2 linked regions of the Homo sapiens genome follow. The protein of the gene in region 2 purifies or fractionates together with the protein of the main gene of each other region. This does not show direct contact. Each region holds a gene or a part of one and is shown on either strand. Other genes may lie near its edges.

Region 1 (3,500 bases), on a different chromosome or scaffold from region 2:
TAATCCCAGCACTTTGGGAGGCCAAGGCAGGTGGATCACTTGAAGTCAGGAGTTCAAGACCAGCCTGGCCAACATGATGAAACCCTGTTTCTACTAAAAATACAAAATGAATTACCCAGGCATAGTGGCTCATGCCTGTAGTTCCAGCTACTTGGGAGGCTGAGGCATGACAGTCACTTGAGCCCGGGGAGGCGGAGGTTGCAGTGAGCGGAGATCTTGCCACTGCTCTCCAGCCTGGGTAACAGAGCCAGACTCTGAGTCAAAAAAGAAAGAAAACCCAGTATCATAAATCAAAGAACAGAAGTCCTACCTTCCATAGTGTTGAAGATTTCCTGGCATTTCTGCTCTTATTGGAGAATCCCTTCCTGCTAACTGCAAATACATTTAATGTTGAGAATGACTTATCAGACTTTTTATTTATTTTCCAAGCTTTGAAAAACAGCATTATCTACTAATTGGTTCCATGCCATTTGTCTTTTTCTTTTAGAGACAGGATCTTGTTCTGTTGCCCAGGCTGGAATGCGTGCAGCATGATCATGGCTCACTGCAGCCTTGAACTCCTAGGCTCAAGCAATCCTCCCACCTCAGCCTCCTGATAGAGGCATGTGTGACCAAACCTGGCTAGTTTTTAAATTTTTGGCCAGGTGAGGTGGCTCATGCCTATAATCCCAGCACTTTGGGAGGCCAAGGCAGGCAGATTACTTGAGCCCAGGAGTTTGAGAATAGCCTGGGCAACATGACGAGATCCCATCTCTACAAAAAATTAGCCAGGTGTGGTGGCACACACCTGTAGTCTCAGCTACTTGGGAGGCTGAGGTGACACGACCGCTTGAGCCCAGGAGTTTGAGACCATGCGAGTCAACAAAGTGAGACCTCGTCTCTTAAAAAAAAACTTGGAAAGCAGGAGGACAAGAGGGAGGGAACGAACAAGCGAAGAGAGTGAGTTCAACTGAGCCAAAATGATTTTTGTATGTTAAGCTCTGAAAATACTTTGGGGAGAACACAGTGATATCATTTAAAAGTTCTCTGCAGGAAACCGGGAAATTAAGTACTAGAGTGGAAAGCCGGGTAGGCACTAAAACATCTACTGAAAATTAGGTCTCCTGTTGATAGAGGAAAAGACTACACAAGTCGATTGTTTTAAAGATCACTGGCATTTTAAAGGTTCCTAGAACCCGATCTAAAATCCAATTTTTTGGCCAGGAGCAGTAGCTCACGCCTGTAATCCCAGCACTTTGGAAGGCTGTGGCGGGTCAATCACCTGAGGTCAGGAGTTCGAGACCAGCCTGGCCAACATGGTGAAACTCCGTCTCTACTAAAAATATAAAAATTAGCCGGGCATGGTGGCAGGTGCCTATAATCTCAGCTACTCGGGAGCCTGAGGCCGGAGAATTGTTTGAATCCAGGAAGCGGAAGTTGCAGTGAGCTGAGATTGCACTACTGCACTCCAGCCTGGGCGAAAAGAACAAAACTCTGTCCCAATAAATAAATAAATAAATAAATAAATAAATAAATAAATAAATAAAATAAAATACATAAATTAAAAGTAAAGTAAAATCCAATTTTCCTCTACTCAATGACTCACTCCTCTTAAAAACATGCTTGTGGACTGGGGGCGGTGGCTCACGCCTGTAATCCCAGCACTTTGGGAGGCCAAGGTGGGCAGATCACAAGGTCAGGAGTTCGAGACCAGCCTGGCCAACATAGTGAAACCTGTCTCTACTAAAAATACAAAAAAATTAGCTGGGCGTGGTGGCAGGCACCTGTAATCCCAGGTACTTGGGAGGCCGAGGCAAGGAGAATTGCTTGAACCTCTCCATCCCAGGCGAAAGTTCGAGACTCCGTCTCAAAAACCAAACAAACAAAAACACACACAAAAAAACCAACACACAGACACACAAAACGATGCTTTCTGTATCACATCTGAATGTCACATACTGGAGGAGAGCTGCATGTGGTTTTCTGTGCTAATTGATATACAGTGACACAAATATCACAGTAAGACAAAACATACATCAGAAACGATCAGAAACGCCCCCATGCACCACCATCTCACTCCACCTGCCCTCTCTGTGCCCCTGCATGTAATTGTGCGCAGCTATGGTACCCATCATACCTCAGGTTCGATGTGCCTTGGAAAAAGGGAGGTGGTAAGGTATTTGTATAAAATTCTCATGTCATCTTGTTCTAATCCACTCCTGCAACAACAGAAAAGCACTGGGTTAAACGTTTGGAACTGTCTTCTGTCTTTCCACTGCTGTGATAAAGCTCATTAAACAAAAATTTTTTTTTCAAGTCATTTTTAGTAACACAGAATAAATTCTAACTTTTTAAAGTCTAAAGCTACTTAAAACTCAAAGCAATCTATTTTTGTACCTGAGATCAAAATGAGTTTCCTTTTTCCTAAACATAATTCTTAGCATTGAGGTAAATCTGAATTTACGTGGTATACTTTGTCAAACTTTTCCAAAGAATTTGAAGCCCTGGATAAAACTCATTTTTTATTAAAAAAAATTTTTTTTTCTTTTTTTTTTTGAGACAAGGTCTTGCTCTGTCACCCAGGCTGGAAGCAGTGGTGCGATCATGGCTCACTGCAGCCTTGGCCTCCAGGGCTCAAGCGGTCCTCCCATCTCAGCCTCCAGACTAGCTGGGACTACAGGCATGCGCCACCATCAGCTAATTTTTGTATTTTATGTAGAGATGGGGGTCTTGCTACGTTGCCAGGCTGGTTTCGAACTGCTGGACTCAAGCAGTGCTCCCGCCTCAGCCTCCTAAAGTGCTGGGATTACATATGTGAGCCACTGTGCCTGGCCTCATCTTTTTTCATTTTTCAAGAGATGAGTCTCGTCTGTCGCCCAGGCTGGATTACAGTGGTGTGACCACAGCTTGCTGCAGCCACCGATTCCCAGGCTCAAGCGAACCTCCCACCTCAGCCTCCTGAGTAGCTGGGACTACTGGTGCTTTTCTCTTTAACATTATATCAAGAGGCTCACCACCTGACTGCGAAGTTAAGGAAGGTAAAGGGTTAAACTTGAGTCCAGGCACTGGAACTTTATCCTGACCTGCAAAAGGCTACTCCTACAGTCCTGTATTTTACATGCCATTTGAGATAAAAAAAAAAAAAAAGTCACAAGGGATTGGACTCGCTGGTTGAATTCCGTGTAGGATTATGCAGGAAACCTCCAAAGCCACACTGTTTCATTTTAGGAGCAGATGTCTCTTAGCTTCCTGGGTTATATGGTAATGCCACATTCTCTCCCCTAGTCCCCTGGGAAAATATGGGTATGCTGTAGACAGGGAACGTGATCCTAGGTCTCAGAAATGTACATGGATTTTAATTCTCCGGATCTTCGGTGAAGAAAGAGGAGGAGGAGAAAAACAAGCTTTCAGGCAAACCACCTGATCTGAAATGAGGCAGGAAGGAGCAGCACATGGAAAAAGCACAGAGAAACTAGCAGGTATCAGACTCTGGAACCGGTTTTTTAAAAGGAGACAGACAA
Region 2 (3,500 bases):
TGAGATTAAACCTTAGGTTTCTCCGATAAAAAAATAATGGCTCTTTCTCTGTTCAAACAAAACAAAATAACACAAAAACAAAAACAAAAAAACAAAAGCACTATGTTTTAGTACTTTTTAGTACTCCAAGTATTAGTTTCTGGGAAATTATTGGGATGGAAAGCTTTGTTTTAGAGATAAAAATAAGGGGACTCACATGTATGTATCTCTCTCACACACGCACACACACAGACACACACACACATACGCACACACACATAGTTGTCTCATCTCGGTTATAATCCCAGGAAACAGACCTTCACGTCTGCCTGTCCAGATTTTGTTCAGCACTTATTCTCACACACTGTCTGTCATAACCACTATCCAACCTTATACATTCACCACCCACCTGGTTGTGAACCTTCAGTAAATTATCTTTTGGATAAAAAGACATGCTCTGTTTCAAACATGTTTTATCCCATCAAACAGCAACTCTACTGATTGAGCCATTTTGATGAATAGGAGGCAAAAGCGTGTGTGTGTGTGTGTGTGTGTGTGTGTGTGTGTGTGTGTGTGTGTTTGTAAATTGAGGAGCAGGTAACCTAGCTCCAAATGTTCAGAACTGGCCATTTAATCTGAAGTAGAATTTTTTCAAGGCAGCGTGTAAAGTCTGATTTATTCTCATAGATGGTTTCCTCAGAAACTTGCCTTCCTCCAGCCATGTTCTCCTCTTTGAATGAGAACATTCTACATTCAATTTCTTGAGTTCCTTAAATCCCAGGGCAGCAGTCCTGGCTAAGAAAAGAGGACATAATCCATCAGTACCTGAAAACTCAGGCTTGTCTTCACAGAGATGATAATCATTATTAATACCATTATCTTCCAAGAAAGGAGAACTCTGGGTGTATAAAGCTGAAACTTCAGACTCCAGCAATCACTCCTATTTCCTTCATATTCTTACCATATTTAAAAATTTTTGCTACTTGCTACTGCAAAATCTCAGTAGCTTAATACAATTTAAGTTTACTTCTCACTCACATTAGGTACAAGGTGGGAGTTCTTAGTTGATGGATGGTTTCCCTACATCTGGTGATTCGAGGACCCAGGCTCCTTCCATAATTGTTACTGTTTCCTTCAAGGCATAAATTGCTGTTTCCCAGTGTGTCAACACCTGTCCAGCAGATGACAGCGACAATATGTAGGGTCACCAATACATCCTCCTTGTAGGATGGGAGATTTCTATGGGCTAGGACTGGAAATGGTACCCATTACTTCTGCTCAAATTCTAGTCACTGGAACCCAGACAAATGACCTTGTCTAACTGGAAAGGAGGCTGAGATGTTAAGTTTAGCTGGGTGCCCAGAAAGAAGAGCAAACTGTTTAGGTGAACAGCTAATCAATCTCTGCCATACTCACTAGAAAGATTCAGACAATTAATACATACGGTGGAAGATCCTTAGAAGTTATCTATTCAAATTTAATGGACATTTATAAAATTCTCCACTCAAACAAAGCAGGATATACATTTCCGGGGAAGGCAGGAAATAGTTTGAACTGAGGAAAAATGAAAATACAACATATTATATCTACAGAATGTGGGTAGAGTGCTGAGAGGAAATTTATAGAATTAAAGGCTAATGTTGGAAAAGAAGAAATATTTTTTATTATACTTTAAGTTCTAGGGTACATGTGCACAACCTGCAGGTTTGTTACATATGTATACATGTGCCATGTTGGTGTGCTGCACCCATTAACTCGTCATTTACATTATGTATATCTCCTAATGCAATCCCTCCCCACTGCCCCCACCCCATGACAGGCCCGAGTGTGTGATGTTCCCCTTCCTGTGTCCAAGTGTTCTCATTGTTCAATTTCCACCTATGAGTGAGAACATGCGGTGTTTAGTTTTTTGTCCTTGTGATAGTTTGCTGAGAATGATGGTTTCCAGCTTCATCCCTGTCCCTTACAAAGGACATGAACTCATCCTTTTTATGGCTGCATAGTATTCCATGGTGTATTTGCTTAATCCAGTCTGTCATTGATGAACATTTGGGTTGGTTCCAGGTCTTTGCTATTGTGAGTAGTGCCGCAGTGAACATACATGTACATGTGTCTTTATAACAGCATGATTTATAATCCTTTGAGTATATAGCCAGTAATGGGATGGCTGGGTCAAATGATATTTCTAGTTCTAGATCCTTGAGGACTAGTTCTAGATCCTTGAGGACTCGCCACACTGTCTTCCACAATGGTTGAACTAGTTTACAGTCCCACCAACAGTGTAAAAGTGTTCCTATTTCTCCACATCCTCTCCAGCATCTGTTGTTTCCTGACTTTTTAATGATTGCCATTCTAACTGGTGTGAGATGGTATCTCATTGTGGTTTTGATTTGCATTTCTCTGATGGCCAGTGATGATGAGCATTTTTTCATGTGTTTTTTGGCTGCATAAATGTCTTCTTTTGAGAAGTGTCTGTTCATATCCTTCGCCCACTTGATGGGGTTGTTTTTTTCTTGTAAATTTGCTGGAGTTCTTTGCAGATTCTGGATATTAGCCCTTTGTCAGATAAGTAGATTGCAAAAATTTTCTCCCATTCTGAGGTTGCCTGTTCACTCTGATGGTAGTTTCTTTTGCTGTGCAGAAGCTCTTTAGTTTAATTAGATCGCATTTGTCAATTTTGGCTTTTGTTGCCATTGCTTTTAGTGTTTTAGACATGAAGTCCTTGCCCATGCCTATGTCCTAAATGGTATTGCCTAGGTTTTCTTCTAGGGTTTTTATGGTTTTAGGTCTAACATTTAAGTCTTGCCGATTCCCTTTCCATAAGTTCTATGCATTACTGAGAGAGGTGAAGTCTCAAACTATGCTTGTGAGTTTATTAATACTTTATTTCTGACAGTTTTTGCTTTATTTTTTAAGCTCTGTTTTTAGTTTTTATACACTTTGAATGTTATGTCTTCTTGGTAAACTGACTCTTATGGTTATGGAATATCCCTCTGTCTCTGGTAATTTTCTTTGCTCTGAAGCCTATTTTGATATTAATATAGTCATTCCAGCATTAGATTAAAGCTTGCATGGTCTATATTTTTCCATTCTTTTACTTTTAATCTGCCTGTATCATTATCATTATAGACAGCATATAATTGGATCATATGTTTGTTTATTCATTCTGAAAATCTCTGTGTCTTAAATGGGTGCTTAGACACTTTGCATTTAATGTAATTATTGATATGTTTGGATTTAGGTTTACCATTTTATATTTGATTTCTGTGTATTAAGCTCTGCTTTCCATTTCTTTATTCCTCTTTCCAGCTTTCTTTTGGGATAGTTGAACATTTTTTAAATATTCCATTTTTATTTATCTGTTATATTTTGACTATATCTCTTTGTTTTGTTTCAGTTTTGTTTCTCTGCTTATTTGTTTTAGTGGTTGCTCTAAGGATTACAGTAAACATATTTAATGTTTAAAAATCTACTTTTAATCAATGTTGTACGACTTGAAGTGGGACATATAGACCTTACAG

The links. Proteins that work in one complex are often made in the same cells at the same time.
Region 1: the proteins of UPP2 (region 2) and CCZ1 purify together in Homo sapiens (affinity purification with mass spectrometry, with the first as the bait; one large-scale study listed by BioGRID). This does not show direct contact.

What each region holds. Positions count from the first base shown.
Region 1 is NC_000007.14:5,908,733-5,912,232, reverse strand, and holds part of CCZ1 (vacuolar fusion protein CCZ1 homolog), read right to left. Parts: intron 2,199-3,500; coding exon 2,117-2,198; intron 373-2,116; coding exon 311-372; intron 1-310. UniProt on the Homo sapiens protein: Acts in concert with MON1A, as a guanine exchange factor (GEF) for RAB7, promotes the exchange of GDP to GTP, converting it from an inactive GDP-bound form into an active GTP-bound form.
Region 2 is NC_000002.12:158,108,376-158,111,875, forward strand, and holds part of UPP2 (uridine phosphorylase 2), read left to right. Parts: intron 1-3,500. UniProt on the Homo sapiens protein: Catalyzes the reversible phosphorylytic cleavage of uridine to uracil and ribose-1-phosphate which can then be utilized as carbon and energy sources or in the rescue of pyrimidine bases for nucleotide synthesis.